3 separate regions of the Homo sapiens genome follow, and regions 2 and 3 are each linked to region 1. Evidence: fine-mapped expression QTL. A gene starts in region 1. Each other region holds a variant in brackets. All regions are shown on one strand. Distances are between the middles of the regions.

What was found.
Region 2: its variant is fine-mapped to the expression of CCDC183-AS1 in testis (GTEx, PIP above 0.99).
Region 3: its variant is fine-mapped to the expression of CCDC183-AS1 in sun-exposed skin (GTEx, PIP 0.94).

What each region holds. Positions count from the first base shown.
Region 1 is chr9:136,806,502-136,810,536 of GRCh38, reverse strand. CCDC183-AS1 (CCDC183 antisense RNA 1) reads left to right here and starts at 1,689. Exons shown (of 5, transcript NR_024580.1): 1 at 1,689-1,810; 2 at 3,335-3,708; 3 at 4,000-4,035. It overlaps CCDC183 (coiled-coil domain containing 183), which reads right to left. Exons shown (of 14, transcript NM_001039374.5): 11 at 3,865-4,033; 12 at 3,670-3,780; 13 at 3,471-3,567; 14 at 2,796-2,965. The coding sequence ends at 2,847. It overlaps RABL6 (RAB, member RAS oncogene family like 6), which reads right to left and starts at 2,589. Exons shown (of 15, transcript NM_024718.5): 1 at 2,211-2,589. The coding sequence starts at 2,340. It also overlaps the pseudogene LOC100422233. RefSeq lists silencers at 1,778-2,307, 2,318-2,447, 2,468-2,527, 2,578-2,747, 2,948-3,177 and enhancers at 2,453-3,049, 3,050-3,645.
Region 2 is chr9:136,771,477-136,775,511 of GRCh38, reverse strand. No RefSeq gene overlaps it. Among named protein-coding and RNA genes, the nearest start is that of LCN15, 9.0 kb to the right of the region's middle. RefSeq lists an enhancer at 1,461-1,755. The variant C/G (reference allele first, on the strand shown) is at 1,564.
Region 3 is chr9:136,777,561-136,781,595 of GRCh38, reverse strand. It overlaps the pseudogene ATP6V1G1P3. Among named protein-coding and RNA genes, the nearest start is that of TMEM141, 12 kb to the left of the region's middle. The variant C/T (reference allele first, on the strand shown) is at 2,206.

The DNA.
Region 1 (4,035 bases):
GAAAAGAAATACTAGAAACTTTCTATTCTAACACAGAAACTCAAAAGTTTTAAAATTGCATGTTATTCAGCTATAAAGATAACATCTTTCTAAAATGTAATTTAGGTACAAATTCAAATTTCTCTCTGTCTCACCACCTTTCATTCAGTTCTAGGAGATCATAACCTGTTCTCCAAGTACTGGAGACTGGCTTTTCTCCTCTGGAAGGACCCCATTGCCCTTTTTAGTCACACTCGCCCAGGACCACACAGGGGTGGTCCTGGTGCATGAGGTGGACCTTGCCCAGGACCCTCGGGGAGCCTTTTCAGAAGGTGAACAGTTTCCAGGTCCAGGCCTGATTTCCCAGGGACTAATACTGAGCTTAGCCAATACTGTAAGCAATAAAATTAAATAAAGGATCCAAACGCAGAGTCTAAAAACTGGCGTAAACTCAGTTATTTTGACTCAATATTCTCTTCTCCGAATGCCAGCTATGTATAAAGTTTCAATTATAACACATTTAAAATCAGCTTTTATTTTTATTCAAAATGCACCACTTTATTTTCCTTACCAGACAGCCAAGCATTAAGCACGTTCCAGTCACGTGACTTCTTCAGCGAGCCCCCAGGCTTCCACTCCACGGGAGTCTGGGAGCTCCTGGACAGAGGAGTCCTGAGATTTCAAATAGTCAAGCCTTCTCCCCAGCCACAAGTTCCTTTGATGCTTGGGTTACTGAACACAAACGCAATGGATTGTTTGTCTTCAACATAATCCGTTTCTGTTCCTAAACGTGTTGGCTGCGCTTTCTTTCTGATGAGCACGCTGACTCTAATTTGAACTTCATCAAAATCTTCTTTGTCGTCGTATGTTCTAGAGTATAAGAAAAGCCAATACGGCCCTTGGTTCGGACATCAACTTTCTTTTAAATTTTTTTTTCGTATTTTTAGTAGAGACGGTGTTTCACTATGTTGGCCAGGCTGGTCTCGAATTCCTGACCTCGTGATCTGCCCGCCTTGGCCTCCCAAAGTGCTGGGATTACAGGCATGAGCCACCGTGCCCGGCCCGGACACCAACTTTCATACCTAGATGCTCAGACTTATCTTTAAGAAGTTGTTTTATCTTGCTTACTGCTAAAGGTGTCTGGGTGAGGGTGGCCCGAGTGGTCTGCAGCTTCCTCTTGCTCACAGGCCGGGGGACTAAGGAAGGCGACATCTTCACTGTCCTCCTGGACTAGCTCCAGCCCCAGGAACTACGGCCTCTCTCCGTGCACACGGCACGCGAATTCATGAACTTGCTTTTAAACCTGCACAAGAGTCTTTCTGATCATTAGTTCTTAAAATTCTACATTACCATGGAAATATCACGGAGGCTCTAAGGCTCCCCTTAAAGTGACCAAAAAACTGGATAGGCGTAGCGTCCTAAAACCTCATAGAAACATACGGAAATGGCTAAGAGGGAAGCAATGTCAAAACAGGGAACCACATAAAAGCTTTCAAAAACTACTGGGAAAGAGCCCGCAAGATGGAAAAACTCATAAGAGGTCGAGGACAATTTACACAATTTATAACAAAGGAATGGAGCGTCCCAGGCACTCAGGAGTCCGTAAATGACTCCTCCTTCCTACGAGAAATGGGATGTCTCCTACAGTCGCAAGTCAGCCCGTGCCTTCTGGAGCTTTTCTAGATACGTCTCTTACAAACGCTTCTTTTAAAAAAAAAGGCGAGAATGTGTGGCGTAGCTAATATTCTGTCTTCAAACTCAGTAGGAAGTCAACAAAGAAAAATCCCGCTGAAAGCGCCAAGGCCGGCTGGGTTCCCCGCACCTCCTGCAGGTGAGTGGTGCCCGGGGCTGGGCACCGTGGAGCGTCGGGGGCGCGGCGCCCCGGGCCGGCGGGCCCTGCTTGGCATTATGTAATCACCCCCGGGCCGGGCAGCCGGGCCAACCCCGCCGCCGCCGACCCGCTCCACTGCACAGCGCGGCGGGAGCGACACGCGGCAGGCGAGTGCGGCTGGGAAACGACCCGCGGCTCGGGGGCCGCGAGGACCCGGCCCTGGCCTGGCCTCTCCTCGCGTCCCCTGGCCCGCGCCCCCGCTCCCGGAGCGCCCGGCGGGCCCAGCGCACCCCACAACCGGCAAGCAGGTGAGACCGACACCCACCACCGCGCGGCGCCCGGGGCCTGGGTTCGGAGACCCGCGCGGCGCTCCCGCGCCCCCCCGGCCCGCCGCACTCACTGTTGTACTGCACCCCCTTGGCGAAGCGCCTCTGCAACGCCTGGTTCATGGACTGCAGCCCGGCGGGGATGTTCTTGTCCCGGCCCGGGGCCTGGTCCGACCCCACCAGCTTCTTCAGGGCGGAAAACATCTTCCCGCTCGGACGTCCCAGCCCGGGCGCGGCCGGCGAGCTCAGCGGCGGCGGGGAAGGGGTGCGACTGGCACCATGTCCCGGCGGCCCCGGCCCCCCCGGAGGCCGGAGCCGGCGCGGCCAGAGGCCGGGGTCCCGGCGGCGGAGCGCAGCCCCGAGCGGCGACTCGGGAACCTCAGCCGCGGCTGCTCCGCTCCGGCCCCCGCGGCCTCCGGCGCGACCGCTCTCCAGGAGTCAGCGCCGCCATCTTGGCGCCGGCTCGGCGGGACGGGAGGGGTGCGCGGCTACGGGGCGCCGCGAGGGCCGCGGGGGCGCGGCGCGCGCGGTCGGCGCATGCGCACGCGGTTCTGGCGCGCAGTTCCGGGCCCGGGCTGCCTCCTTACGCAGAACCTCCCCCGATCCTGCGTGTCCCGTGCTCCTCTCCGAGACCCCGGTCGCCCCAGCGTCCGCAGCAGTCCTGGAAAAATGTTTATTTGTGTAGCAAAGCAGGGAGCGGGGCGGCGGGGCTACTTCTTCTTTTTCTTGGCCGCCTTGAGCTTCCCCTCGATTAGCCGCTGCGCCTGCCTCTTGATCTCGGCGCGCGAAGGGACGTAGCTGTGGTCCATGTCGGGGAACTGGAAGGTGTCTGCGGGCGGAGGCGGCGGCTCGCACACGGGGCTAGCCCAGCTAGGCGCAGCCGCCCGACCCGCCTCTCGCCCCCGCCCTCCACCGACCCGGGCCAGGTGCCTTGCCCCAGGGACAGCCCCAGCGTGCCGGGAGGACTCAGCCCAGCCCATTCGCAGCGGCTCACGCTGCCCTGCCTAGCCTTTCCCGCAGAACCCCCAGTGGAAGCTCCGGCCCAGGCCTTCACCGCGCTCCTCCCTGCTCCAGCCCTGGTGCCTCTCCTCCGGGCCCGTCTGGCATGGCATGCCTCCTCCTTTCGGAGAAATTAACAAGGTATTTCAGTGGCTTTAGCCTCCCCATGGCATCACTAAGTCACCTCCATCAATTAAAGTCCTGCAGGTACAACTGATGCACCCTGTAGCCCCGCTGTCCCTCCAGGATGTCCCGGTGGGATGGGAGCCGGCGCCACCCCGACCTGTGTTCCAGCCACCCGCCTGCAGCCCGGGCCCCAGTTCCGGGGCCTGTACCGATCATATCCTCCTCCCGGTTCTCAAAGCTGATCCTGGTGTTGTACTTCTCCATCAGAGTCGAGGACTCCAGGGTGTCCCTCACCTTTGTGTCGCCCTGCAGGGCAAAGCCCCCTTCAGCCGTGCAGACACTCTGAACGGGAGCCTGTCAGCTTTGAGGGGACGTGGGCTGTGCAGGTTCCTCCCAGCCCGGGGCTACCTCCTCGGTCCTGGACACCATCTGCACTCTGTCAGCCAGGTACGTGAGCTTCCCCTCGCAGTACGCCAGCTTGCTGTTCAAATCGAGGGTGTTGGAGAGCACCACTTCTCTCTGTAGGCCGGGAGGAGGGTCTCATCTCCCCTCTGGCCCTGCCCAGGGACCTGGTGTGTGGCAGCTCAGCCTCACTCCCGGTACCTGGGTCGCAGGCAAGTTAATGCCCATCAGCCGGACATAGAGGTTGTCGATGCCCATCTGGATGGTCAGCAGCAGCTCCTGGCCCTTGGTCATGTTGCTGTGCGCCAGCTGGAGCCTCTCTTCTTCCTCTTTTAGCATGTCTGTCATTTTCTTCTCAACGGACTTGAAGCT
Region 2 (4,035 bases), 35 kb after region 1:
TACCCAGAGGAGGCATGGGGTCTCCCTTATGTATTTCTGCCATGGTTGGCTCAGTTGAACTCACCTTTTGAACAAGACTTGGCCTTGGCCACCCAGAGGCCCCTGGCCAAGAGCTTGACTCCTGGCACGGCCACTGACACATCCATGTTTGGTGCACACATGGCTGGGCAGCCCCGAGACCGGCTCTGCCTGGGCCTCTCATTGGTGGCATTGCTCGCATTTGTCCCCTCCCAAGTCTGGCCTATTTATGAGCCTCATCACACCTCGGCATGAAGAAGGAGGTTTGGCAAATAACCCATAAAGCATCTTTTAAAAGGTTAATGGTCACTGTTGTGGGGAGAAAGGGCCACTGAGCTTGGATGCTCTCTTTGCTGATGTGGTTTTCTCAATTAAGTGAAAATAAAGAGCCATGCCTCTTTGCACGTACCTGGTCTGATTACCAAGCAGCCCAGGAGGCCTCGGGGTGTCTTGGAAGCTGGAACCATCAGCCCTGTGTGAACTACAGGCGCTTCTATATAAGCTGCTCCCAGGTGAGGGGAGCGGGTCAGGTGATCCCAAGCTCCGCTTCCTGCTCGACATGAGTGAGCTGTGTGTGCAGAGTTGGTTGTGGAGGAATCCCACGGTCTGGCCAGTCACCTGCAGGAGGGCAGGGTTGATGCTGTTCTCATATTCATCATCCACAGTGCCTGGCACTTGCTCCAGGCCATGGCAGGCGTACAGGTGTCCAACTGATCTTAGATAATGAGGGACCTGCTCCGCAGCCCTGAGGGTAGGAGGGAAGTCAGCTTGAGAGCTTTCCTGGGTCATGCCTCACCTAACTTACATGGCGTTTCCAGGAGAGAGGGCTACTGGCGGTGTCTGTGTATCAGTCAGGATGAGTAACAGCAGCTGCTACAACAACAGCTCCCAACGCTCAGAGGGATGCACACGAGGATTCTTTCCTGCTCTTGTCACAGTCTCACGACACTAAAGATATGTGTCAGTCCACCTGCATTGCTATAAAGGAATACCTGAGGCTGGGTTAATTAGGGGTGGGGCAGTTCCCCTGAAAGGACTGTTAGGAGACAAGTACCTGTGACTGTGATGTGCATCTTGCAAAGTCCTAAAGGGAAGTGGGTCAAATTAGCTTTCTCCAGCAGACAGGGAGGGGCACCCACGGCAAAATCCCTTCACCTGGGAGCAGGTGTGGTCCTTGAGTCCTATGTTGCCTGTTTCTTCCTCCATCTTGACCTGCAGGCCTGATGTGATCTGACCTCTGCCTGCCTCTCTGACTCCATCTCCCCTCCCGCTCCTGTTCTTTCTACCAATTAGGTTACAGCCTCGGTGAATGTGACAAGGACCCTGAATCACGGTGGCTTAACTAAGACAGAGGTTCATTCCCTTCACATGAAAGTCCAAGGCAGTCGGGAGATTCTTCTCTATGCAGTTTTTAGGGTCTTAGCCTCCTTCCATCTTGCTGTTCTGACTTCCTTAGGGTGTAGCTTCCCCCTGAGAGTCCACCCTGTCTCCTGCCAGCCAGCAGGGAGAGGAGAAGGGGACAACAGGGCACAAAACTTCCTTCCT[C/G]TAAAGGCAGCCGCTGTGCACAGGCCTCGCCTCCCCATTGGCCACAGCCTGGTCACATGGCCACTGCTTGCTGCAAGGGATGCTGGGAAGTGTAGTCTTCATCCTGGATGCCAGTGCCCACATGGGTCCCTCCTGAGGCCGAGGGGAGAGAGGACATGGGAGAGAGTTTCTGGTCTCCCCCGCCCTGGGGTCAGGGTTGACTCCCCGGGTGATGGTTGTTCTTGTGTGTTGACTGCGTCTACACATCAGTTCCACTATATTGTGTGTCTGTTCTGGTGAGGTCTGGATGCCTCCAGGCCTGAGCAGGAGAAACCAGCAACAGGATTTGTTTTGTTTTGCTGAATCTAGGATCACATTGTTGCAGGAAGTAGCTGGCAGCTAATGATGGCTGTTGCTGGGGGATCTGCTGGCCTGTAAACCAGGGTGTTCATGTGGCTGCTTGGGCTTCCTTTCAACATGGCTGCCTCTGAGCAGTTGTACTTCTCATGTGCCAGTGGACTTCGAAGACACAGGAAGTAGCAGTCTCCAGGCCAGTTTAGCAGTTTCCAGCAGTTTCCAGGCCACTCCCGAACTGGCACAGCATCCCTTCCACTGTATTCAATTGGCCAAAGTATAACAGTAAAACAGTAGAACTAACATAACTCACTCCGTTTGTGTTCAAGGGGCCTTTACCCATCCTGCACGTAGGCTAGGATAATTTCGGAGCACTGAGATAATATGGAAAAACAGTAATCATGTAGTTTTAAAAACTAACTCTGAGGTTGAAAGTATATAAACAACTAACAATATTTTATTAAATATGTGTAAAAGCATTGCGACCTGACTAAGGACAAAGAAGTTCCCAACCTCCTCAGACTTGCTGGTGCCCAGATGTCTGAGATGTCTGTGCTCATAGGCCACTTCTTTTTTTTTTTTTTTTTTTTTTGACAAGGTCTATCACCCAGGCTGGAGTGCAGTGGTGCCATCTCGGCTCACTGCAACCTCCACCTCCTGGGCTCAAGTCATCCTCCAACCTCAGCCTTCTGAGTAGCTGGGACTACAGGTGCACACCACCATGCTAGGCTAATTTTTGTATTTTTTGTAGAGACAGGGTTTTACCATGTTGCCCAGGCTGGTCTCGAACTTGTGAGCTCAAGTGGTCCACCTGCCCTGGCCTCCCAAAGTGCTGGGATTACAGGTTTGAGCCACCCCACCCAGATGTAGGTCACCTCTTTTTGAGACGGAGTCTTGCTCTGTCACCCAGGCTGGAGTGCAATGGCACCATCTCAGCTCACTGCAACCTCTGCCTCCTGTGTTCAAGTGATACTCCTGCCTCAGCCTCCAGAGTAGCTGGGAATACAGGCATGCGCCACTATGCCCGGCTAATTTTGTATTTTTAGTAGAGACGGTGTTTCTCCATGTTGGTCAGGCTGGTCTCGAACTCCCGACCTCAGATGATCTGCTCGCCTCGGCCTCCCAAAGTGGGAGTGTTGGGATTACAGGCGTGAGCCACCGCACCCGACTGTAGATCACTTCTTGATCCTAACCACCTTCTCTTTCTCTGCCCTTAACATAAAAAGAGCTTGAAATTTGTACCCACCTGAGATGGCACATTAGGACTCTAGTCCACCATCTTCTTGGTTTGCTGGCTGTCTGAATAAATTGCTTTCTTCCCACCAACTCCTGTCTCTTGAGTTTTGGCTTTTGAGCAGCTGAATGTGTGTTCGGTTACAAAAGCAGTCACAAGGTGCCCCTCCCGCCAAGATTTAAGGGGTGGAGAATTAAACTGTCACTTTGAAGAAGAGAGTTCAGGACTGCCCCTTCCACCCAAGACAGCAAACGGGCCAGTCCTTGAGCAGGTAGATGGGGAGGGGAGGTGGCAGAGCAGCCTGAGAGCTACAGCAGAGTGCTGGTGGGGAGGACCATGGGAGGGACCACAGACTCAAGAACTGTGTTGAGAAGGATTTCCAGGAGGCTGGGAATGGGCCTGTCTTCCCTGAAATTAGTATTTAGAGAGAATCTGGAAGAAAACCATGCTCTCAGAGTTAGGCTTTGGTGTGGAAATCAAACCTTTGCCTGCTACACTGTTTTCTTTTTTTTTTTTCTTTTTTCTTTTTTTTTGACACAGAGTCTTGCTCTGTCACCCAGGCTGGAGAGTGCAGTTGGCACTATCTTGGCTCACTGCAACCTCCGCCGCCTGGGTTCAAGTGATTCTCTTGCCTCAGCCTCCCCAGTAGCTGGGATTACAGGTGCCCACTACTATGTCCAGCTAATTTTTTTATATGTTTTTAGTAGAGACGAGGTTTCACCATGTTGGTCAGGCTGGTCTCGAACTCCTGATCCCAAAGTGCTGGGATTACAGGCGTAAGCCACCACGCCTGGCTAATTTTTTTGTATCTTTTTAGTAGAGACGGGGTTTCTCCATGTTGGTCAGGCTGGTCTCGACCTCCTGACCTCAGGTGATCTGCCCACCTTGGCCTCCCAAAGTGCTGG
Region 3 (4,035 bases), 29 kb after region 1:
AGACAGGGTTTCACTCTGTTAGCCAGGATGGTCTCAATCTCCTGACCTCGTGATCCACCCACCTTGGCCTCCCAAAGTGCTGGGATTACAGGCGTGAGCCACCGTGCCCAGCCGGCCTCACAAGTCTTAACCCTGTCACTTGGGTTAAAACCCTCGGAAGTTCCGCTATCGTAAATTTCGTGTTAATGCTTCTGTCTGTTGTCAGTCTGCAGCTGTACCCAACAGCTCCGAAGAGACAGCGACCATCGAGAATGGGCCATGATGATGATGGTGGTTTTGTCAAAAAGAAAAGGGGGAAATGTGGGGGAAAGAGAGGTCAGACTGTTACTGTGTCTATGTAGAAAAAGGAAGACATAAGAAACTCCATTTTGATCTGTATTAAGAAAAATTCTTCTGCTTTGACATGCTGTTAATCTGTAACCTTAGCCCCAACCCTGTACTCACAGAAACATGTGCTGTGTTAACTCAAGGTTTGAGGGATTTAGGGCTATACAGCATGTGCTTTGTTAACAATGTGTTTGCAGGCAGTATGCTTGGTAAAAGTCATCGCCATTCTCCATTCTCCATTAACCAGGGACACAGTGCACTGCGGAAAGCCGCAGGGACCTCTGCCCAAGAAAGCCTGCGTATTGTCCAGGTCTCCCCCCACTGAGACAGCCTGAGATATGGCCTCATGGGAAGGGAAAGACCTGATCGTCCCCCAGGCTGACACCCATAAAGGGTCTGTACTGAGGAGGATTAGTGAAAGAGGAAGGCCTCTTTGCAGTTGAGATAAGAGGAAGGCATCTGTCTCCTGCTCATCCCTGGGAATGGAATGTCTTGGTGTAAAGCCCAATCATACATTCTGTTTACTGAGATAGGAGAAAACTGCCCCATGGCTGGAGGTGAGACATGCTGGCGGCAATACTGCTCTTTACTGCACTGAGAGGTTTGTGTAAAGTCAGACATAAACCTGGCCTACGTGCACATCCAGGCACAGCACCTTTCCCTAAACTTATTTATGACACAGAGTCCTTTGCTCATGTTTTCCTGCTGACCCTCTGCCCACCATTACCCTATAGTCCTGCCATGTCCCCCTCACCGAGATAGTAGAGCTAGTGATCAATAAATACTGAGGAACTCAGAGACCAGCGTCGGTGCAGTTCCTCACTTGCTGAGTGCCGGTCCCCTGGGCCCACTTTTCTTCCCTTATACTTTGTCTTTGTGTCTTATTTGTTTTCTCAGTCTCTCATCTCCACCTGGTGAGAAATACCCGCAGGTGTGGAGGGGCAGGTCCCCTTCATAATTTCATAAGACTATAACTAGAGCTATGCTAAAGCTTCATATTTCATGAGGGCATCTAAAATGCCTATCCAAAGAACAGGTGCTTCTCTTCTTCTATCCATTTATGCGGTAGTTTTCATGCATTTCTGGCTGAATGTCACAGACAAAAGCCAAGAGGTTATCCCAGACTTCATCCCTGTTGTGAGGAAAGTAGGTCTGGAGGATGGTCATCTTCTCCTGGGTCTCCTTCTCCACTTTGGTGCTGCCAGTGCCATGGATTCCAGTGCCGCAGCTTCCTTGGCTTTCAACTCTTTCTCCCTCTGCAGGTGGTACTGTTCAATTTCAGCCTGAGCTGCTTCTTTGGCCTGTGTCAGCCTCCAGTTCTTTCTTTTTTTTTTGAGACGGAGTCTCGCTCTGTGGCCCAGGCTGGAGTGTAGTGGCAGCGATCTTGGCTCACTGCAACCTCTACCTCCCAGGTTCAAACAATTCTCTGCCTCAGCCTCCTGAGTAGCTGGGACTACAGGTGCATGCCAGCATGTTGCAGGAAGTCAGGGACCCCGAATGGAGGGACCAGCTGGAGCCGCAGCAGAAGAACACAAATTGTGAAGATTTCATGGACATTTGTCAGTTCCCAAATAATACTTTTACAATTTCTTATGCCTGTCTTTACTTTAGTCACTTACTCCTGTTATCTTTGTAAACTGAGGATGTAAGTCACCTCAGGACCACTGTGATAATTGTGTTAACTGTACAAATTGATTGTAAAACATGTATGTTTGAACAATATGAAATCAGTGCACCTTGAAAAAGAACAGAATAACAGCAATGTTTAGGGAACAAGGGAAGACAACCATAAGGTCTGACTGCCTGCAGGTTCGGGCAAAAAAAGCCATATTTTTCTTCTTGCAGAGAGCCTATAAATGGACATGCAAGTAGGAGAGA[C/T]GGGGAGGAGATGGTGTTGTTGTTCTAGTTTGAGGGTCGCAGAGCTGGAGACCTGAGGAGGAGCCGGTGTTGATCTAGTTTGAGCATTGGGGAGCTGGAGACCCTGGAGGAGCTGGTGTTGATCCAGTTTGAGGGTCGGGGAGCTGGAGACCTGAGGAGGAGCCGGTGTTGATCTAGTTTGAGGGTTGGGGAGCTGGAGACCCTGGAGGAGCTGGTGTTGATCTAGTTTGAGCATTGGGGAGCTGGAGACCCTGGAGGAGCCAGTGTTGATCTAGTTTGAGCGTTGGGGAGCTGGAGACCCTGGAGGAGCTGGTGTTGATCTAGTTTGAGGGTCACGGAGCTGGAGGCCTGGGGAGGAGCCAGTGTTGATCCAGTTTGAGGGTCGGGGAGCTGGAGACCCTGGAGGAGCTGGTGTTGATCCAGTTGGAGGGTCACGGAGCTGGAGACTGAGGAGGAGCCAGTGTTGATCCAGTTTGAGGGTCGGGGAGCTGGAGACCCTGGAGGAGCCAGTGTTGATCCAGTTTGAGGGTCGGGGAGCTGGAGACCCTGGAGGAGCCGGTGTTGATCCAGTTTGAGAGTTGGGGAGCTGGAGACCCTGGAGGAGCTGGTGTTGATCCAGTTTGAGGGTCGGGGAGCTGGAGACTCTGGAGGACCTGGTGTTGATCCAGTTTGAGGGTCGGGGAACTGGAGACCCTGGAGGAGCTGGTGTTGATCCAGTTTGAGGGTCGGGGAGCTGGAGACTGAGGAGGAGCCGGTGTTGATCCAGTTTGAGGGTCACGGAGCTGGAGACTGAGGAGGAGCCGGTGTTGATCCAGTTTGAGGGTTGGGGAGCTGGAAACCCTGGAGGAGCCGGTGTTGATCCAGTTTGAGGGTCGGGGAGCTGGAGACCCTGGAGGAGCTGGTGTTGATCCAGTTTGAGGGTTGGGGAGCTGGAGACCTGGGAGGAGCTGGTGGTGTTGTTCTAGTTTGAGGTTCACAGAGCTGGAGACCTGGGGAGGAGATGGTGTTGTTCTAGTTTGAGGATTGCAGAGCTGGAGGCCTGGGGAGGAGCCAGTGTTTTTCTAGTTTGAGGGTCCTGGACCTGGAGATTTGAGGAGGAGCTGGTGTTGTTCTAGTTTGAGGTTAGTGGAGCTGGAGAATCGGGGTGGTGCCAGTGTTTTCTAGTTTGAGGGTTATGGAGCTGGAGACCAGGGGAGAAGCTGGTGGTGGTGTTCTAGTTTAAGGGTCATGGAGCTGGAGGCCTGGGGAGGAGCCAGTGTTGTTCTAGTTTGAGGGTCGTGGAGCTGGAGAACTGAGGAGGAGCTGGTGTTGTTCTAGTTTGAGAGTCATGGAACTGGAGACTTGGAGAGGAGCTGGTGTTATTCTAGTTTGAGGGTTGTGGAGCTGGAGACCAGAGAAGGAGCTGGTGTTGTTCTAATTATAGGGTCATGGAACTGGAGAATCAGGGAGGTGCCAGCGTTGTTCTAGTTTGAGGGCTGTGGAGCTGGAGACCTGGGGAGAAGCTGGTGTTGTTCTAGTTTGAGCGTTGTGGAACTGGAGACCCAGGGAGAAGCTGGTGGTGTTGTTCTAGTTTGAAGGTGGTGGAGCTGGAGACCTGGGGAGAGGCTGGTGCTGCTGTTGTAGTTTGAGGGTCATGGAACTGGAGGCGGGGAGGAGCCGGTGCTGTTGCGCTTCATGTCTGAGGGTTATATAGCTGGAAACCCAGGGAGAAGCCGGTATTACCGCTTTTAAAGTCTGAAGGTCGTGGAGCCTGAGGCCCAGGGAGGAGCCGGTGCTGCTCTTCAAATGGACCCTCCCGAGGTCTCCAGCTCCATGACCGTCAAACTACAA